Linked DNA regions of Homo sapiens. The protein of the gene in region 5 interacts with the protein of the main gene of each other region in a pairwise test. Each region holds a gene or a part of one and is shown on either strand. Other genes may lie near its edges.

The links.
Region 1: the proteins of SNX20 (region 5) and GMCL1 interact in a two-hybrid assay, tested with the Homo sapiens proteins (one large-scale study listed by BioGRID).
Region 2: the proteins of SNX20 (region 5) and ALAS1 interact in a two-hybrid assay, tested with the Homo sapiens proteins (one large-scale study listed by BioGRID and IntAct).
Region 3: the proteins of SNX20 (region 5) and BDNF interact in binary tests that used the Homo sapiens proteins (3 or more experiments, as listed by UniProt).
Region 4: the proteins of SNX20 (region 5) and TACC3 interact in binary tests that used the Homo sapiens proteins (3 or more experiments, as listed by UniProt).
Region 6: the proteins of SNX20 (region 5) and PECAM1 interact in binary tests that used the Homo sapiens proteins (3 or more experiments, as listed by UniProt).

What each region holds. Positions count from the first base shown.
Region 1 is NC_000002.12:69,836,160-69,839,659, forward strand, and holds part of GMCL1 (germ cell-less protein-like 1), read left to right. Parts: intron 1-1,387; coding exon 1,388-1,511; intron 1,512-3,297; coding exon 3,298-3,394; intron 3,395-3,500. UniProt on the Homo sapiens protein: Possible function in spermatogenesis. Enhances the degradation of MDM2 and increases the amount of p53 probably by modulating the nucleocytoplasmic transport.
Region 2 is NC_000003.12:52,201,160-52,204,659, forward strand, and holds part of ALAS1 (5-aminolevulinate synthase, non-specific, mitochondrial isoform 1 precursor), read left to right. Parts: intron 1-1,347; coding exon 1,348-1,575; intron 1,576-2,703; coding exon 2,704-2,853; intron 2,854-3,500.
Region 3 is NC_000011.10:27,690,456-27,693,955, reverse strand, and holds part of BDNF (neurotrophic factor BDNF precursor form isoform a preproprotein), read left to right. Parts: intron 1-2,815; exon of another isoform or gene 2,816-2,850; intron 2,851-3,500. UniProt on the Homo sapiens protein: Important signaling molecule that activates signaling cascades downstream of NTRK2. During development, promotes the survival and differentiation of selected neuronal populations of the peripheral and central nervous systems.
Region 4 is NC_000004.12:1,731,521-1,735,020, forward strand, and holds part of TACC3 (transforming acidic coiled-coil-containing protein 3), read left to right. Parts: intron 1-3,500. UniProt on the Homo sapiens protein: Plays a role in the microtubule-dependent coupling of the nucleus and the centrosome. Involved in the processes that regulate centrosome-mediated interkinetic nuclear migration (INM) of neural progenitors.
Region 5 is NC_000016.10:50,671,313-50,674,812, reverse strand, and holds the end of SNX20 (sorting nexin-20), read left to right. Parts: intron 1-738; coding exon 739-1,407; 3' UTR 1,408-3,184; downstream 3,185-3,500.
Region 6 is NC_000017.11:64,359,861-64,363,360, reverse strand, and holds part of PECAM1 (platelet endothelial cell adhesion molecule precursor), read left to right. Parts: coding exon 1-212; intron 213-2,945; coding exon 2,946-3,221; intron 3,222-3,500. UniProt on the Homo sapiens protein: Cell adhesion molecule which is required for leukocyte transendothelial migration (TEM) under most inflammatory conditions.

The DNA.
Region 1 (3,500 bases), on a different chromosome or scaffold from region 5:
GATGGGCAGATAAGCTTAGCCTCCATCCTAGTCCTCCATAATGTATTTTTTGGCTGTGGCTGTCACTGTTCTTTTTCATTTGAATTTGTTTTCTAACTTTCAGATCTGTATAAATCTCTCATCAAGTGATGAGCCTACCCTCACCTTTTCCTGGTGTGGACTTATTCCTTTTTTGTACTCTTAATCTTTAATGTAATTTGGGGAGGGATGGGAAGCCAACATGTGTACATTCTGCCGTCAGGAACTGGAAACTACATTGTCTCTTGATTTCGCATCATAACGAGTGAAGTGGATACTATTAATGTCCTCTTTTTACAGCTGTGATAACTGAGCAGCTGGGACTCAAACCCAAGTCTGTTACCACTAAGACATGTGCTGTTTTTATTGTCGGCTAGGAAGAGGTGTTAAGTACACAGGTGTTAAATTCGCCAATTCAGGATGTCATCTGAAACAATTACTTCATTTTTAAAAAGAGATTGAAGGTTTTATGTGCTAGGAAAGCTTTCAGAATTGGTCAGGAATTTAAGATATTGATCAGCCTCTGCCTAAGGCCTTTTCTTAGTTACTGGATCATTTTGAGCAATGATTTTCAAACTTTATTTTTTTAGTCAAGTCTTCCTTTAAATTAAATCTGTGCAGAAATCCAGTATGTTTACAGATAGAATAGGTGATGCTGCTCTGGTTGAAGTTAGATGGGATGCTCACAGTTCACTCCTTAGCTCTCCTTGGTGGCCCCTAAGACTTCTCCTTTGAGCAGTTTTAAAAACCTTTCATCTAAAATAAATAAATAAATAATTTTAAAAAACAAATAGGAAAAGAAAAGAAAACCTTTGATCTAAGGTTGCAAACCGTTTGTCCAGTGGCTGGAAAACATTTTAAGTAGTTTAAGAATAGGTTGGTACCAAAATAAGATTAAATGTAAATTATTTTAAAATTACTTGGGTAGGTGAAATGTTTACTCTTGTTCTCCATTTCCTACTTGCAGATTATTGCGCTATTTGAGCTCCTTCATAGTGCTGGTTTCTAAATAAGGAAATAAGCAAAAAATCAACATGCTAACTTCTTAATCTATTGAATGGGTAATTAAATTAGTCCAAAATTGCTAAAACATGTGTAGTGAAAAGTCTGCCTCCCATGCTGCCCCCCTTTCTCCACTATCTCTCCCGTGCATAGAGGACCCCAGAGATAACCACTATTATTAGTTTCTTATGTACTCTTCTAGACACAAGAAAATTTGAATATATACTATCTCCCTATCCTTTTACACAATAGGTAAGTTGACTCTATTTAATAGAAATTGAATAAAAGGAGTATTTAGAAATATATGCAAAATCAGTAAAACATTCAGTTTTATATAAATATGTGACTTTTTCATTTCTTTTAACAGGAAAAAATTAAAGAGTACATCTAAATATATTTATCAAACATTATTTTTGAATGGTGAAAACAGTGACATTAAGATTTGTGCTCTAGGAGAAGAATGGAGCTTACACAAAATATATTTATGTCAAGTAAGTATTTTTTCTATTTGAGTAACAGGGTAGTCACTGAAACTCTTAAGTCATGTTCTTCCTCATTGCACTTCACAGTAATCTTTTGCATGAACACCATAGTGGTTAAATCCTCTCATTTGATCAGTCTGTAAGAAAAATGGCAAACATTGTTAGTGAAAACTAAGTTTGGTCTAGAAAGAGATTTTGATATTTCAGTATCAGACTAGCCTAATACTACGTATTTGTCATTACTTCATAAAATGCTTTTTTCGGTGCCTTCTGTTGATAAAAGGGGAAAAGTTGGGGAAAAAATATTTAACATTAAAGTTAAGATTGTAGTGTTTATTTTGCTTATGGTTATTTAAATTGGATAAACTCATCTGAAATGTTGCTTTGTAGTTCACATTGAGTGTGAATAGAAAGTTCTCTCCTGAAAAATGCAGGTAAAGACAACACCAAAAAGTATATAGACTAAGTAGATTTCTGTACTGAAAATATTACTACCTGCCACCCCACTTTAAAAATTCAGAACTTTCATAGCTGACGTGGTGTTGGGCACCTGTAATCCCAGCTACTCAGGAGGCTGAGGCAGGAGAATTGCTTGAACCTGGGAGATGGAGGTTGCAGTGAGCTGAGATCGTACCACTGCATTCCAGCCTGGGCAACAGAGCGAGACTCTGTCTCAAAAAAAAAAAAAAAAAAAAAAAAAAAATCGGAGCTTTCAAAATAGAATACAATGTTGCTCTAATGGCCCAAATATTTTATTCATTTTCTTTCATCAAATCTATAAGCTAGGTATTGTTTGAGGCACTAGAAATAAAACAACAGTTTTTATCCTTTGGAACTTACATTTTTCCTCTTTACCATTTGAGAATAATTACTGGTAAGACAGCATAGTATAAAATTTTTCAGTAAAAGTATTTGAAAATGAATTGCCTTCTCTAACATTTTAATCATGTTTTAAAATGTGTTTTTGAAACAAATTTATTTTGGCTTGAAGTATGTTGCCCAGATACTATATCAGAATATTGCTTTTAACTTCAGGGTATGATTCATGTTGTTTCTTTTTAATATCTGAAAGCAGTTTTGTGAACTTGAGGGTAAGAATACCTCTGTTAAAACTTTACCCCTCGTGGAAGATGTATTATAATTCAAGCCACATGCTAAAATATAAGCCCCCTGAGGACAGAAACAATATCGATTTTGTTTATTGCTATATTCACAGTGCCTTCTACATACTAAGTACTCAGTAACATTTTTAAATAAATTAGTTAATATTTGATCCATTTCAAAGTAATTCTAATTATGAGGAGTGCTATCTGGCAGATACCTAAAGACTTCATTCTGTACCTTTCCAAGAATTCAGGTCCATTCTGGACATTTCTCATTAAACTAAATTTTGGATTTTCCCTGGTTTCTTTGGCGATCATCCTGTTTTTGCTGACTTGGGACTGGTTTGGTCCTTTATAGCCATTCAGGTGTACAGTAAAGATTCAACAGTTTGAGTAAAAAGCTAACCAGGTTCAAATAATATACATGAATTCAATTTAGATAGTAATATAAGAATTTTAGTTTTTTGTCAAAAATAGTACTAAACCAAAAGTATATTTTGATACACCTAATAGTGTCCTTATCTTAATTTCTTTTCTCCTGTGGACATATTTGGCAGTTCTTTTTCTGTTGAAGTAATAGAATGGATGAGTTTAGTTAATGGATAGAATAGTTGCTTAGAATTAGAAATGGGCAAATAATTTGGAAGACACAGAAAGTACTTGATAATCGTTGACTTTTTTTTTTGTTTAAGTCTGGCTACTTTTCTAGTATGTTCAGTGGTTCTTGGAAAGAATCCAGCATGAATATTATTGAACTGGAGATTCCTGACCAGAACATTGATGTAGAAGGTAACTACCACAATAATTACTATTATGCAACAATCGTAAAAACATAATCTTATTCTTCTGGTAGAAGATAAATAATTCCTTCCAGCCTTGTAGTCTAGAAAACTCC
Region 2 (3,500 bases), on a different chromosome or scaffold from region 5:
TTCCAGAATGATGAAGAAAGACTTTTCTAGAAAGAAGGTGAATGAATTTGCTCAAGGGGAGAGGGAAGTCACTGTAGCTAGAAGGATAATTACCAGCCAACGGTGTTTAGTCAGCAGACTTTGATGAATTTAGATGAGAAAGTAGATGAGGTATGTGAATGTGATATACCCCTATTTTTTCTTACTTTATTAGCAATCTAAAGACCTAAGTCTTAGTCTAATTTCTGTTGTTTAGATGAAAACCAATAGCTTTTATGTTAAGCAACAGCAAGCCTCTTTGTCAAGAATCTGTTTAGAAAATGTCAGCAGAGACAGGATGTGGTGGCTCATGCCTGTAATTCCAGCACTTTGGGAGGCTGAGGCGGGAGGACTGCTTGAGCCTAGGAGTTTGATAGAAGCTAGGGCCACATAACAAGACTCCGTCTCTACAAAAAATAAAAAATAAAAAGAATTAGCTGGGCGCAGTAGAACACCTGCAGTCCAAGCTACTTGGAGAGCTAAGGTGAGAGGATCACTTGAGCCTGGAGGTCAAAGCTGCAGTTAGCTATGATTGCACCATGCACTCTAGCCTGGTTGACAGAGTGAGATCCTGTTTCAAAAAAAAAGGAAAGGAAAATGTTAGCAGAGAAAAAAATGTGTGTGAATATTTCCCGTTACCTTACAGAGTGTGTCCTCTCATAAAATAAGCTGAGTGTAGTTGGGGTAGAAATTACTGGAAATGATCCAACTCAAGGATTCCGGGTTGTCTAAAACTAGAAAATGGTACTTTTTTTGGATTTATGACGAGAAATACTGTGGGTTTAAGAGGCAACTGGAATGTGCCAGTTAACTCTTCATAGACGCATTGTTTCCTGTGAAGCAGATGAAAAACTAGAGAGATTAGCAGAACCTAATAAAAATAAGCTTGTGGCTGAGTGCAGTGGTTCACGCCTATAATCCCAGCACTTTGGGAGGCCAAGGCAGGTGGATAACCTGAGGTCAGGAGTTCAAGACCAGCCTGGACAACATGGTGAAACCCCATCTCTACTAAAAATACACAAATTAGCCAGGCATGGTGGCACACACCTGTAACCCCAGCTACTTGGGAGGCTGAGGCATGAGAATCACTTGAACCCAGGAGGTGGAGGTTGTAGTGAGCCAAGATTGTGCCACTGTACTCCAACCTGGGGTACAGAGCAAGACTCCATCTTAAAAACAAAACAAAACAAAAAAAACACTTGTGTCTGGATGGTGGGGTACAGTAAGTATTAAGTTTATCTTTGAGGCAATAAAAGAAAGAAATAAGTGGTTTTCTTACATACTGTGCAACCAGATCTGATGCTTCACTTTTTCCATTTCCTCCCTCAGAAGACAAAACTGCTAAGGCCAAGGTCCAACAGACTCCTGATGGATCCCAGCAGAGTCCAGATGGCACACAGCTTCCGTCTGGACACCCCTTGCCTGCCACAAGCCAGGGCACTGCAAGCAAATGCCCTTTCCTGGCAGCACAGATGAATCAGAGAGGCAGCAGTGTCTTCTGCAAAGCCAGTCTTGAGCTTCAGGAGGATGTGCAGGAAATGAATGCCGTGAGGAAAGGTAAGAGATGAGTTGTGAACCATTAGTGGTAGTGAAGGGGTCCTTTTAGTTCTTTTGGGCCCTCAGATTTGTGTATGAGCTATTATTAGGGCAGTATTTATGGAAACACCTTCCTCTTTTAGGGCCAGAGAGGAAGGTCTTCAAGATAGACAGTCAAGGGACTGTATTGCGAAAGTGGGACTTTCTTTCTGGTGCGTGTGTGGGATGTGACCAGCTTTTATAGTTACTACTTAATTTCTGAAAATAACCTGCAGTCTTGAGCTGCCACCAGCTGCCTTTTGTCCCTTTGGTCTTTCCCATCATCTGCTAGGATAAAGATAGAAAATAATGGTTTTACTGCAGTAAGTGCTGGTCCTAGGGCTCCCAAGCCGTGTGTCTTACTGATGGTCATTGAATTGCAACCTTAACTCCACAATATATAGGTGTGGCTATATCTGCAGAGAACTCAAGGCTCCCCAAAAGCCTAACCAGCAGAAATTATGCATATGGCCAAAATTGTTTTCTATGAAGAAAATTGAGATTAGGACCAGGCCCAGTGGCTCACACCTATAATCCCAGCACTTTGGGAGGCCGAGGCAGGTGGATCACTTGAGGCCAGGAGTTTAAGACCAGCCAGGCCAACATGGGGAAACCCCATCCCTACCAAAAATACAAAGATTAGCTGGGCATGATGGCGCATGCCTATAGTCCCATCTTCTCAGGAGGTTGAGGAGGGAGGATCGCTTGAACCCAGGAGGCAGAGGTTGCAATGAGTCGAGATCGTGCCACTGCTCTCCAGCCTGGGTGACAGAATGGGACTCTGTCTCAAAAAAAAAAAAACAGAAAATTGAGATTAGGATTGGGGTGGGGATGTAGTGGAGTGAATAAGACATGCCAACCAGCAAGAAAGCTTTGGACTTTATTGTTCATTAAAGCTGGCCAGTAGCTCTGAAAACAACACCAAGAGTCTGCCATTACAGTAACTAAAATAGAAGAGATGCTTTGTACACTCAGTTATAACTAACTTTGGTTATGCTTGGCCTTTTTTGTGAACTAGGCCATAAGCCATTTTTGACAATATGTTTGGAAGATATTGTGAACTCAGAATAGAAAGTTGGTCCCATTTGTTTCTTGTTACTTTTGTTCCAGAGGTTGCTGAAACCTCAGCAGGCCCCAGTGTGGTTAGTGTGAAAACCGATGGAGGGGATCCCAGTGGACTGCTGAAGAACTTCCAGGACATCATGCAAAAGCAAAGACCAGAAAGAGTGTCTCATCTTCTTCAAGATAACTTGCCAAAATGTAAGTCTCATTGTTATTTGCCTGATGTAGAAAAGAATTTATAATTCAAATGTACATTAGATTAAATATAAAATTGCATGGTGAGGCTGGGCACAGTAGCTCATACCTGTAATCCCAGCACTTTGGGAGGCTGAAGCGGGAGAAGATCACTTGAGGCCAGGAGTTTGAGGCCAGCCTTGGCAACATAGCAAGACACTATCTCTACCAAAACAGTTTTTTTAATTAGCCAGGCATGATGGCTTGCATCTATAGTCCCAGCTACTCAGGAGGCTAAGGTAGGAAGATTGCTTAAGCCCAAGACTTCAAGGTTCAGTGAGCTATGATCACGCTATTGCACTCCAGCCTGAATGACAGACAGAGACTCAGTTTCTAGGAAAAACAAAAAAATGTATGGTGAGTTGAGGCTTGAAAGCCATATCCCTTGCTTGCGTGAGCAGGTGCTTTTGGTTGTGGTGACTACAGGTGCTGTTGGTAGCCTGCCTTCTGTCCTTTAATACTTACCGTCTACACATGGCACTGAGCCAAACACGACATACAGTCTTATTTACTTACAAGATGAGGACATCAAATAACCTGCCCAGGATCTCCCTCAGTTGCCAAGCTGAGACTTGTTGTATTTCACCAAAATGCAGCTGTGTTTCACAACC
Region 3 (3,500 bases), on a different chromosome or scaffold from region 5:
CGTGTGTGTGTATGCACATATATCTAAAGGGAGAGAGGGAGAAGGAAACTTACTAAATAAAATTTTTGCCACATGGGATTTAGTCTAATCAGTCTTGGTTTTGGAGTTGCTATCATCAGTAGTTCCATTTTGTGATTCTTTCTTTCTGCCTTCATGTGCCTTTGAAAACTGAAACTATGCCCAAATTAAAACAAGTTTTTCTGTCTTTTCACATGTTCACTTATTTCTTGAATGTGTTTTTAAACACAGACAAACTTCTTTTACATCATGTAGAATCTGAAGGTCGAGAAATTTGCAGTCATTTTGCTGGAGAGAGATGCTTGGCGGAGTCCCAGGCCACATTCCTAGGCCAAACTCTCGAAGGTATTCCTCTTATGCAACATTGGGAAAATACATCCAGCACCGACATGTTGGCTGATAATGTGTCTGAAGGCACAGACGATATGCTTATCATATGAAACATAAAGCCAGCAGATATTGCAGACATTCTGTTGAATGATAGAATCTGGATCATTTACATTTACTTAAATGTAAAATACTATGATTAAGTACAAAAAAATCAATTTAGGAGAGAATAGAGAGTTGCGGGCACGGTTTTAGGGGATGACTTATCAGCAGATTGTAGAAAGGAAGCTTGAATGTTTTAAATTAACTGCAAGTTCAGTATAAGCCAGTGGTGTGACAAGAGGCTGTTATCATAGCTACTGAAATTTTGGGCTGCACTGCTAGAAATATAATACTGAAATGGAGAAGCTAATAATTCTTCACTTTTTAAATAGACTGTATCTAGAATATTATCATCAGTTCAAGGAAATGAAATAAGTTGTTTTAGGTACATCATCGATAAATTAGTGTACATTCAAATCACTGTGACCAGGATGCATAGGGAATTTGAAAGCATTGCATGTGAGCAATGGTTGAGGGGACTTGGAATGCATGACTTAGGGACAAGAAAACTTAGGCTGGAATGGCAAGTGGTTTTTGAATGTTGGGTTGAGAAGAATTCTAAAACTGTGAAGGATTAGTAAAAATAACATTCAGATTGCTAATGCCTACTGTGGCTGGGAGATTAGAGTGTCAACATGTGTGATGTATTTTTGACATCCTTATTTTGAGGATGGGCTTCAAAGATTTGACGAACTGTCATAAGTGTAATTTGTGTTGCTTCAGACAGCAGTTCTAGAACCAATGATGTAAATTTAGATACTCTACATGGTAGTTAGAAAACTTTCCATTAATTTAATTTAGCAAATATTGAATGCTCACTGCATACAGAGCACTTTATTAGAGGAATATATAATAAAGAAAAAAGAGGTCTGGTGTGGTGGCTCATGCCTGTAATCCCAGCACTCTGGGAGGCTGAGGTGGGAGGATCACTTGAGCCCAGGAGATCATTACGAGTCTGGACAACATAGCAAGACCCCATCTTTACAAAAGACAAAAAAAATTATCCAAGCCTGGTGACAGGCACTTGTAGTCCCAGCTACTTGGGAGGCTGAGGCAGTAGGATCGTTTGAGCCCAGGAGGTTGGGGCTGCAGTGAGCCGTGATTGTCCCACTGCTCTTCAGCCTGGGTGACAGAGTGAGACCCCGTTGGAGGGAAGGAAGGGAAGGAAGGAAGAAAGGTAGGAAGGCTGAAATGAAACCCTTTTAGAAATGACACTAAAATGGGAGGTTGGAGTAAGGTATTTTCTGAAGTGCCTTTGTACTTGTTTTTTTCTAATGCATTGGCCATAAGTCTGCTCCTTATTTATAGTCCATAAACAATCCTAATGAGAACAGTTATATATTTCTGCCTTTGAATCATCTACTTGAAGTGTTTAGCATCATGAATTGAGTATCAGAAATCCCTCCCATTTCTTTGCAAAGCGCTGTATTTTACTTTTCCTTATTTGTATACAGATTCTCAAAATTGGCTATTTTTCCTTTGGGTTAGACAGAACAGAATGTCTGGAAAAAAAAGTTCTTATCAAATTCAGGTGCCCAAATTGCTTAAGAAATTAACTTTTGAGGTTATATTTTTTTAGGGTTCAGTAGCTAAACTAAGAAAACTTCTCACCGTTCACCTTCACTTTTGGAAACCACAAAATCTTCAGATATTACAGTTTTCCAAAGAGTTTCTCTTTTTAAATATAAACTAAAAGGAATTGACTCCTCCCCCAACTCCCTCAGGCCTCAGCATGGATAGAGTTACTTTTTTTCTTTAATAATTTATTTATAACTTATTTTGCTCTTCTGTAGAACAGCTGGAGATTAAGCAACATGGCCATGACATAAAATGCAAGTTAGACCATAAGATGAGCAGCCCACTCCAAGTATGAATGAGTACTTATTCTTTGTGATCTCTCATACTGCTTTTAGGTATTAATAGTGTCAGTCAGCAAAGCAAACAGTTTAATATTTACATCTCCTTTAGGATATCATATAGTTTATAGTTTGTATGTGTTCTTGCGTGTATGTTTTCTTCTGTTTCAAATTCTTTTTTCTTAAAGTAAGAATGTTATATGTAGCAAATGGTTCTTTCATTAATTCATTTGTTAATTCACCGTGCATTAATTGAGTGCCCAGTGAGTGTCAGGCACTGGGCTACTTGGATTTCTTTTCCCTGTATTGATCCATATATCTTCAGGTGCTCCTTGATATGGCTCTCCATTGACTCTCTCATATAAGGCTTTCATTACCTATTCACATACTCCCTCCCAAAGAGGACTGGTCCAAAAGTAAAATCTTGAGCAAGTTCTCTGAGTTATTTCAGAACTTCTTGCCCCCAAACTGTATTTTTAATTATTGACTGGTAGCATTTTGGAATAACTTACCTCTCTTTTTTAAAGATTGAAGTTCTTTATCCTCTCTGATTTTCAGGTGTCAGTTTGTGTACAAATTGAGACAATAAAAATGTTTGTTAGACATTTTCTTAAAGCATTTTGCTATGTGAGAATCTTTCATGAAGAACTCTTTTTAACAATGACTCTATAGCAGAAGCCACAGTAGAGGGAGAACTACTGAATCAAAGATGGTGTTTGAGTCTATGATTTTATGATGGATTTTTTTTTTTTTTACATACAAGGATATGCATGGGTCTTTTAGTATTCAGGAATCTGTTCTTCACTTGACAGTATTTATAAATTGTGTGTTTCCCCCTAAAAAAACTTAAATTGTGAGAATGCTTCCATTTACTAGAAGTTGGTTAATGATTATGCCAAATAAGGAAAATAAGACAGAAAAATCAGTTTAGTGAATACTATTTTGCCTTTAAATTTAGTAATTTAGTAACAGTATCTCTTTGGGGTTTACTAGAAACCACTTTTTAATCCAATAGGTCTCTTTCATTGTGAAGTCAGGAGGTGATTTTGCTTAAATGTGTAGTATAGGAATCTATATGTGGTGTTCAAGGATCATGTAAATATGCTGATATAATCGGAGCACAGTTTGGCATCATTAACTCAGAAATATTTAAACTCTTGCTATACAACATGGAAGCAAACTTGTGCATAGTTTGTG
Region 4 (3,500 bases), on a different chromosome or scaffold from region 5:
TGGAAACTGTAGACTCAGGAAAATGAGCAGGAGAGGTGAACAATGCAGTGCGCTAATGAGATACAAGTGTAGAGTCAACAACTGGATACTCGATCATCAGAAATACTGCTTGAAACGACCTTCTTTTTTTTTTCTGAGATAGTCTCGCTCTGTCACCCAGCCTGGAATGCAGTGGCACAATCTGGGTTCAATGCAACCTCCACTTCCCAGGTTCAAGAGATTCTCCTGCTCAGCCTCCCAAGTAGCTGGGATTACAAGCATGTACCACCACATCCAGCTAATTTTTGTACTTTTAGTGGCAACGGGGTTTCACCATGTTGGCCAGGCTGGTCTCAAACTCTGACCTCAAGTGATCCACCTGCCTCGGCCTCCCAAAGTGCTGGGATTGCACGCGTGAGCCCCCGCGCCCGGCCCAGAACCCCTTGATAATGAAATGTGAAGCCTGAACCTTAGACACCAGACTGCAGTTAAATACGGTTTGTCCGTAAGACTGGAGGCTGCAGTTGAATACGGTTTGTCCATAAGATTGGAGGCTGCACTTGAATACGGTTTGTCTGTAAGATTGGAGGCTGCAGTTAAACATGGTTTGTCCATAAGATTGGAGGCTGCACTTGAATACGGTTTGTCTGTAAGATTGGAGGCTGCAGTTAAATAAATACGGCTTGTCCGTAAGATTGGAGGCTGCAGTTAAATAAATACGGTTTGTCCGTAAGATTGGAGGCTGCAGTTAAATAAATACGGTTTGTCCGTAAGATTGGAGGCTGCAGTTAAATAAATACGGTTTGTCCGTAAGATTGGAGGCTGCAGTTGAATACGGTTTGTCCGTAAGATTGGAGGCTGCAGTTGAATACGGTTTGTCCGTAAGATTGGAGGCTGCAGTTAAATAAATACAGTTTGTCCGTAAGATTGGAGGCTGCAGTTAAATAAATACGGTTTGTCCGTAAGATTGGAAGGTGGAACGGTCCTTAAATTAAAGTGCATTTGGTAGGAATTGATGGCTGAGTTGTTTTAAAGGACACACAGCCAGGTGGGTATAAGATCTCAATTTAGAGAACTGAAAACCCAGGCACACAGCAGACACGAATGGCATGTAGGGTTTGTCGCTGACAGGATAGTTGTGGGCCGCCACCATGTGGGGATATCAGCTCAGCTGGGATGGGCCTGTCACCCTCACGCAGGATCCCTGGAATCACACAGCACGGCCTTCTGTGTCCGGCGTCTCCCTCGGGGAGGTGTGTTTCCGAGTCCTGGCCATGCTGGAGCAGGTGTGGGTGCTCCTGTCCTTGCCGTGGCAGCTTGGCTTCACATCATCTTATCCATTCATTCATGGATTTGCTGGTTTCTGCTTTTTAGCTGTCAGGAGTAGTGCTGCCTCGAATGTTCAGGTGTAAGTTCTATGTGGATGTATTCTTCCATTTCTCCTGGATACATAGCTAGGAGTGGAGTCGCTGGTCACAGTAACTCTGCTCACCTTTTAGCTACCAGGTGGCCTTCCAGAGTGGCTGCAGTGTTTCACATTCCCACTGGCAGTTATAAGAGAGCTCCAGTTTCTCCACATCCTCGCCAGCGCTGCTTGTCTGTCTTGTTGATCCTAGACTTCCAGCGGGTGGGAAGCGGATCTGGTTGCGGTTTTGATTTGCAGTTCCCAGGTGGCTCATGAACGAGCGTCTTTTTATGTGCTCGTTGGATATCTTCTTTGGGAAAGTGTCTGTCGAGATCCCTTGTCCATTGAGCCACTTATGTTTTTATTACTGAGTTTTAAGAGGTAAATCCCTTTTATTCAAGAAGTGAGGGAAAGGAAAAAATACAAAGTTAAGTCCCTTATCAGATGATGTTTCAAAGTATTGGCTTTTGGCCAGGCATAGGGGCCCACACTTGTAATCTCAGCATTTTGCGGGGCCGAGGCAGGATTGTTTGAGCCCTGTAGTTTGAGACTAACCTGGGCAACATGGCAAGACCTCATCTCTACCAAAAAAAACCTTTTTTTTTATTACCTGGCATGGTGGCGTACACCTATAGTCCCAGCTGCTCGGGAAGCTGAGATGGGAGGCTCGCTTGAGCCAGGAGGTCAAGGCTGCAGTGAGCCATGATTGCACTACTGCACTCCAGTCTGGGCGACAGCGAGACCCTATCTGAAGGAAAGAAAAAAAAGGCAGAAATGAAAACTGACAACAAGGCTAGGTGCGGTGGCTCACGCCCGTAATCCTAGCACTTTGGGAGGCTGAGGAGGGCGAATCACCTGAGATCAAGAGTTTGAGATCAGCCTGGCCAACATGGTGAAACCTCATCTCTACTAAAAATACAAAAATTAGCTGGGTGTGTTGGCACATGCCTGTAATCCTAGCTACTTGGGAGGCTGAGGCGGGAGAATCGCTTGAACCCAGGAGGCGGAGGTTGCAGTGAGCCGAGATGGCGCCACCGCACTCCACCTGAGCAACAGAGCAAGACTCTGTCTCAAAAAAAAAAAAAAGAAAAGAAAACTGACAAGGCCATAGCAGAGAAGGACCTACAAGTTTTTGCTAGACTAAATAATTGGCAACCGTTTTTTAGCTTAATTGAGAAAAGGAGAGAATGAGCAAATACTGCTAGGCATGAAGAAAGGGACAAAACTAGAGATGCCTCAGCCTGGATCTCAGCCAGATCAAGACCCTGTCTTAAAGTACCAGTTTGGTTTGTTTTTTTCCCGAGACGGAGTCTTGCTCTGTCGCCCAGGCTGGAGTGCAGTAGCATGATCTCAGCTTGTTGCAACCTCCGCCTCCTGGGTTCAAGCGATTCTCCTGCCTCAGCCTCCCAAGTAGCTGGGATTACAGGCTCATGCCACCGTGCCCAACTAATTTTTGCATTTTTCGTAGAGACAGGGTTTCCCCATGTTGGCCAGGCTGGCCTCAAACTCCTGACCTCAGGTGATCCACCTGCCTTGGCCTCCCAAAGTGCTGGGATTACAGATGTGAGCTACTGCGCCCAGCCACAGTTTAAGAGTTTTATAGTTTTAGAGGCCGAGACCGGAGGATCACTTGAAGTCAGGAGTTCAAGACCAGCCCTGGCAACGTAGCAAGACTCCTCCTCTACCAAAACAAAAAGTAGGATAGTTTTAACTCTCACAGTTAGGGTGTTGATCCATTCTGAGTTAATCTTTGTATGTGGTATGAGGCACCTTTTCTTTTTTTTTGCAACAGTTTTCCCTCCGCTGCCCAGGTTGGAGTGCAGTGGCATAATCTCAGCTCAGTGCAGCCTCCACCTCCCAGGCTCAAGGAGTTCTCCTGCCTCAGCCTCCCTGTAATAGGAGTGCAGCACCGCGCCTAGCTAATTTTTGTATTTTTTGTACAGACAAGGTTTTGCCCTGTTGAACTCCTGGGCTCAAGTGATCCACTCGCCTCAGCCTCCACCCTTAGTTTTAATCAAAAGTTATATTATCAAAAATTAAAAGACTTGTCTAGGGTAATTTTAAAGACTAATAGTTCTCAACCAGAGCAGTTTTGCCCCCGCCTTTCCCCAGATGT
Region 5 (3,500 bases):
TTCTTACCATATAACGGCATCACCAGTGTACCTAAATGATGTTATATTGTACGTAAAACTAATTCCCAAGTGTGAAACATTTGGAAAACACAGCATCTCAGTTCAGAAAACAGAGGCCCAGTTTTAGCAAGTAAAGCCAAGAGGGACCCCAGCAGCCTGCAGGGCAGGACCCTCTGCCCTTTCTCCTCCCAGATGTCCCCACCTTGCTGTGTTGTTGTTCCAGGGTTGACTCAGCTGATGCCAATAGCAATTTAAAACAGAATTGGGCCAGGTGCAGTGGCTCATGCCTGTAATCCCAGCACTTTGGGAGGCCCAGGTAGGAGGATCGCTTGAGCCCAGGAGTTGGAGACCAGCCTGGGCAACACAGCCAGACCCCATCTTTTAAAAAAAATCAAAAAATCTGCCAGGTAGTGGGTGTGCCTGTAGTCCCAGCTACTCAGGAGGCTCAGGTGGGCAGGTCAATTGAGCCCATAAGTTCAAGGTTGCAGTGAGGTATGATCGCATCACTGTACTCCAGCCTGGGTAACAGTGCGAGACCCTGTCTCTAAAAATAAATAAATAAATAAATAAATAAATAAATAAACAAACAAACAAACAAACAAACAAACAATTGCATATAAGGATCGCCCGTTTTCAGGGCATGCTTTACACCGGCCTGGTTAACTTTACTCTGGGTGTGCTCCGTCCGCCGCAGCCCCCGCCGGGAGGTGGCCACAGCTCTCTCTGGTTGCGCCCTAGGTGTACCAAATCATCGTCATCCAGACTGGGAGCTTTGACAACAACAAGGCCGTCCTGGAACGGCGCTATTCCGACTTCGCGAAGCTCCAGAAAGCGCTGCTGAAGACGTTCAGGGAGGAGATCGAAGACGTGGAGTTTCCCAGGAAGCACCTGACTGGGAACTTCGCTGAGGAGATGATCTGTGAGCGTCGGCGCGCCCTGCAGGAGTACCTGGGCCTGCTCTACGCCATCCGCTGCGTGCGCCGCTCCCGGGAGTTCCTGGACTTCCTCACGCGGCCGGAGCTGCGCGAGGCTTTCGGCTGCCTGCGGGCCGGCCAGTACCCGCGCGCCCTGGAGCTGCTGCTGCGCGTGCTGCCGCTGCAGGAGAAGCTCACCGCCCACTGCCCTGCGGCCGCCGTCCCGGCCCTGTGCGCCGTGCTGCTGTGCCACCGCGACCTCGACCGCCCCGCCGAGGCCTTCGCGGCCGGAGAGAGGGCCCTGCAGCGCCTGCAGGCCCGGGAGGGCCATCGCTACTATGCGCCTCTGCTGGACGCCATGGTCCGCCTGGCCTACGCGCTGGGCAAGGACTTCGTGACTCTGCAGGAGAGGCTGGAGGAGAGCCAGCTCCGGAGGCCCACGCCCCGAGGCATCACCCTGAAGGAGCTCACTGTGCGAGAATACCTGCACTGAGCCGGCCTGGGACCCCGCAGGGACGCTGGAGATTTGGGGTCACCATGGCTCACAGTGGGCTGTTTGGGGTTCTTTTTTTTTATTTTTCCTTTTCTTTTTTGTTATTTGAGACAGTCTTGCTCTGTCACCCAGACTGAAGTGCAGTGGCTCAATTATGTCTCACTGCAGCCTCAAACTCCTGGGCACAAGCAATCCTCCCACCTCAGCCTCCCAAGTAGCTGGGATTACAGGTGCACACCACCACACCAGGCTAATTTTTAATTTTTTAGTAGAGACAGGGTCTCTCTGTTGCCCAGGCTGGTCTCTAACTTCTGACCTTAAATGATCTTCCTGCCTCAGCTTCCCAAAACACTGGGGTTACAAGTGTGAGCCACCACCCCTGGCCTGGGGTTCATTTTTAATGGGAAAAGCCACTGGGGGCTCTAACTCGCTGGGTGACTTTGGACAAGCCCCTCCTCTGGTCCTCAATTTCTCCATCTGTATTGGACAGAGGTGCTCCTGGGACCCCTTGGAAGCCTCTGCTTGTGTCCCACGTCCTCTTGATGCCAGGGCCACTTCATCTCCAAAACACAAAACCAACTGCCAAAACCGTCCAGAGCAGTGTCCACCCCACCAGTGTCTTTGTGGGAAGCTGGAGAAGAAGTTTACCTCACACATTCTAGACAAAACTTAGTCCATTTCCTTGAAGACAGTTCTCTCCAGCTGCTCCAAGGCTTTTCTCTCTGTTCCTTCCACCTTGGAATTGCTTTAAAATATTTCCATCCATTATCCTAATACTATCTTAGTATTCTAGCCCTTCCCCCTTACCATGTAGACCTGACAAAGCAAAACAAAAGCTCACCTATTGCCCTCAAGAACAGCCTCTACACACACACACACACACACACACACACACACACACACACACACGGTGGGAGTTGTATGCCATCCTTTTGAAGGGTGGGAGGACCCTGGACCAGAAAGCAATAATGGCATAAGATTCTGTGATACCAGGCATTTTTGGCAAGGGAAGTTGCCAACAATTTTTCTGGCTGGGATGGCATAGCACATTGTCTAGGGGTGGATTTTCATTCATAAGGCAGCTGTTCCCTGAATGGCTTCCCTGGGTTATGTAGAAACAGCCTGGGGAGGAGGTGATACAACATACTTAATGGGGCCTCTGGGCAGAAAACAGACTGAATCCTCAACACTGCCCCTTTTGAGGGTCTGTGATCCTGGAACTTCTCTGATGGACTGGGATGCCCTTAACTGAGGTCTGCTGTCTGGAAAGGACACCACAGGCCCAGAATGAAGGGGCATCTGGACCAATGACCTAGATTCAACACAGGGCTTGGAGCTGGTGGTACAGGCTGGTTTTGGCCCAATGTGTGTTGGAGGCTGGAAGCCCCTGAAGACCTAAACTGCCTGGATGAGCTTATTAGGGTGAATTAATGAGTCTGTAATTTGGGAACCTTAATGTGAGACACCACTTAAGGAGAGGAACTTGGCCCAGCAAGTGATCACTCTAGAAGTGGACAGCTATGCACTAGACTGCACCAGAATCTGTTCAACAGCGACACCTTGTGGTAAAAACTGTAGACGCCCCATCAGGCTGGATGGGAAACTAGAAACAGACTGTCTCATCTTTGGACAGATATCCCTCAAATCTCCCAATCTACTCCAGGGAAAAGACACTTCAAGTGAGAGATATTGGACTTCTTGAAAATCTAGGCCTATGGAAAATTAAAGTGTTAAATGGAAAAATTAAAGAGCTATGAGTCTATTTGTAATGATGAAACAGATGATATTGATTTTGTCAGTTATTTCTTCAAATCTAAAATGCTATCAACAATATGCAACAAATGTTTACTAACAAAGAAAAAATACCCAACATGGACAGTTTAATGGGATATTCCAGCACAAAAGCTGGAAAAGCAAAGAGTTAGACCCCCGATATGAGGGTTAACACCAAATAAGCCTGTTGTACAGGAGGGGACATTAAGGAAATTTGCACAAACTAAACTTGGCACTGGGTGGAGTACAGGGAACTTCCTCTGAGAATTTGAACTGCAAGCGGGCACTCGCCCATGTTTTAGGGCTGAATACACACAGCA
Region 6 (3,500 bases), on a different chromosome or scaffold from region 5:
ACATCTGGACCAAGGTGAAAGACTGAACCTGTCCTGCTCCATCCCAGGAGCACCTCCAGCCAACTTCACCATCCAGAAGGAAGATACGATTGTGTCACAGACTCAAGATTTCACCAAGATAGCCTCAAAGTCGGACAGTGGGACGTATATCTGCACTGCAGGTATTGACAAAGTGGTCAAGAAAAGCAACACAGTCCAGATAGTCGTATGTGGTGAGTATATTGTTGCTGACTCAGAGGACATCCAGGGTTGAATGGGAGAAAGGAAATTTATCTGCAGCTGCCGCCCTCTCCGGTCTGAGCAGACTCAGGCAGGGTAAGAACTAGAGGGAGAGAAGTGCGAAATCAAAGGCCAAAGAAACAAGGAGGTATTCCTGCTCAGAACACTGATTCACTGATGATGATGTGGCCTCTGACTTGCTAAGATTCTGGCAAGATTCTGCCTCCTGGAGCAAGTACCCACCCAAAAGTTCAGGAAGGAAACACTACTTAGTCAATGTTAAACTTTTCTTTTTTTTTTTTTTGAGACGTGTCGCCCAGGCTAGAGTGCAGTGGCACGATAGCTCACTGCAACCTCTGCCTCCTAGGTTCAAGTGATCTCCTGCCTCAGCCTCCCAAGTAGCTGGGATTACAGGTGCCCACCACCATGTCTGCCTAATTTTTGTATTTTTATTTTTATTACTTTTATTTATTTATTTATTTATTTTTTTGAGATGCAGTCTCGCTCTGTCACCCAGGCTGGAGTGCAGTGGCACAATCTGGGCTCACTGCAAGCTCCGCCTCCTGGGTTCACGCCATTCTCCTGCCTCAGCCTCCCAAGTAGCTGGGACTACAGGCACCCGCAACCACGCCCGGATAATATTTTTTTGTATTTTTAGTAGAGATGGGGTTTCACCGTGTTAGCCAGGATGGTCTCCATCTCCTGACCTCGTGATCTGCCTGCCTCAGCCTCCCAAAGTCCTGGGATTACAGGCCTGAGCCACCACACCCGGCCAAGAATATCAAAATTCCATTTTTTAAATCTGTATCCTGGCTAACCCAAAAGGGTAAGACTTCCAGTGGACAGAATGTAGGTATTTGACCACCAGGAGCTGGGCTTCTCAGGCCTGAATGTGCATGCAAGACCTGGTTAAAATACAGGTTATGATTCAGTATTTTAGGCCCAGATGGGGCCAGGTTCTGCATCTCTAACTAGCATTTTGGTGATGTGGATGCTGTTGGTCTCTGGACCACACTTTGGGTGGCGAGATTCTGGTTGATTATAGAACTCCAGTCAAGTTGTCACTGTCACTATATTATTCAGTCACGATCCTTTCATTTAACCTGTGGCTGTGTTTTATCCAGCTAAGATTTTATTATAGCTTCAACTGAACCAGGATTTTAGCCTATTTTTAATGCTCTAACCACCTAACTCAAAAGGCAGGAATGCAAGAGACAAATGTGTGTTATAACGTTTTATTTTATTTTTTGTTCTTGGGAGGAGGAAATCTCATTGTATAAGGTTTAAATAAACTAATGCCTAAATAATGACCTAATATAATTCTTATCTGTTAAGAGGCTGAAGCACTAAGAAGACTTTTTTTATCTTTTTTTTTTTTTTTTTTTTTTGAGATGGAGTTTTGCTCTTGTTACCCAGGCTGGAGTGCAATGACATGATCTCGGCTCACTGCAACCTCTGCCTCCCGGGTTCAAGCGATTCTCCTGCCTCAGCCTCCCGAGTAGCTAGGATTACAGGCATGTGCCACCTTGCCCAGCTAATTTTGTATTTTCAGTAGAGACGGGGTTTCTCTACATTGGTCAGGCTGGTCTTAAAGTCCTGACCTCAGGTGATCTGCCCACCTCGGCCTCCCAAAGTGCTGGGATTACAGGCATGAGCCACCGTGACTGGCTGAGAATAATTTAAAAACATATATATTGGCTGGACCTGGTGGCTCACACCTGTAATCCCAACAATTTGGCAGGCCAAGGTGGGTGGATCACCTGAGGTCAGGAGTTTGAGGCCAGCCTGGCCAACATGGTGAAACCCCCTCTCTACTAAAAATACAAAAGTTAGCCGGGTGTGGTGGCACATGCCTGTAATCCCAGCTACTCGGGAGGCTGAGGCAGGAGAATCCCTTGGACCCAGGAGGTGGAGGTTGTGGTCAGCTGAGATTGCGCCATTGCACTCCAGCCTGGGTGACAGAGCAAGACTCGGTCTCAGAACACACACACACACACACACACACACACACATATATGCTCAGCCAGGTGTGGTGGCTCATACTTATAATCCCAGCACTTTGGGCAGCTGATGTGGGAGGATCACTTGAGTCCAGGAGTTCAAGACCAGCCTGAGCACATAGTGAGACCCTGTCTCTACAAAAAATAAAGAATTAGCCAGGTGTGGTGTGCACCTATAGTCCCAGCTACTCGGGAGGCTGAGGTAGGAGGATTGCTTGATTCTGGGAGGTTGTAGTGAGCTGTCATCGCACCAGTGCACTCCAGCCTGGGTAATAGAGTGAGACCCTGTCTCAAATACACACACACACACACACACACACACACACATTTTGTTGGCTACTTGTTGTACTTTTTCTATGTTTTCTGTGTCTTTGCTCAACACAAGAAAAGTATATTATGTGTGCATGTGCGTGTGAGATATGGTAAAATATGAACATGTATTTCTGGGGATGTAATGTTTTCCTTGAATTTCTGTCATTCTCTGTTTTGCTTATTGTACTTCTCTTTCCCTTTCCCTTCTCACCACACACACACACACACACACACACACACACACACAGCCTGTCAGTCTCATAGGTGTCCTATAAAGGTAAATAAGGCAGGCAGGCATTTGAAATTACAGCAGGGATAGAAAGCAAAGCTCAGGCTTTGGAGGAGGAACCTCTTGTGCTGGATGCTTTGCTTTTACCTTCAGTGCCTTTTGGATTGTTTCTCCCTCTGTTCTAGAAATGCTCTCCCAGCCCAGGATTTCTTATGATGCCCAGTTTGAGGTCATAAAAGGACAGACCATCGAAGTCCGTTGCGAATCGATCAGTGGAACTTTGCCTATTTCTTACCAACTTTTAAAAACAAGTAAAGTTTTGGAGAATAGTACCAAGAACTCAAATGATCCTGCGGTATTCAAAGACAACCCCACTGAAGACGTCGAATACCAGTGTGTTGCAGATAATTGCCATTCCCATGCCAAAATGTTAAGTGAGGTTCTGAGGGTGAAGGTGATAGGTAAGTTGCTGTGCTGTGAGAAGAAATCATGTGGGCTTGGGGCATTCTTTCACGCCCAGGGACTGTGGGAACAATAAGAGAAGTAGGGGGCCAGGTGCGGTGGCTCATGCCTGTAATCCCAGCACTTTAGGAGGCCAAGGCCGGTGAATCATTGAGGCCAGGAGTTCAAGACCAGCCTGGCCAACATGGTGAAACCCCATCTCTACTAAAAATACAAAAATTAGCTGGGCATGGTGGCGTGCGCCTATAATCCCAGCCACTCGGGAGGCTGAGGCAGGA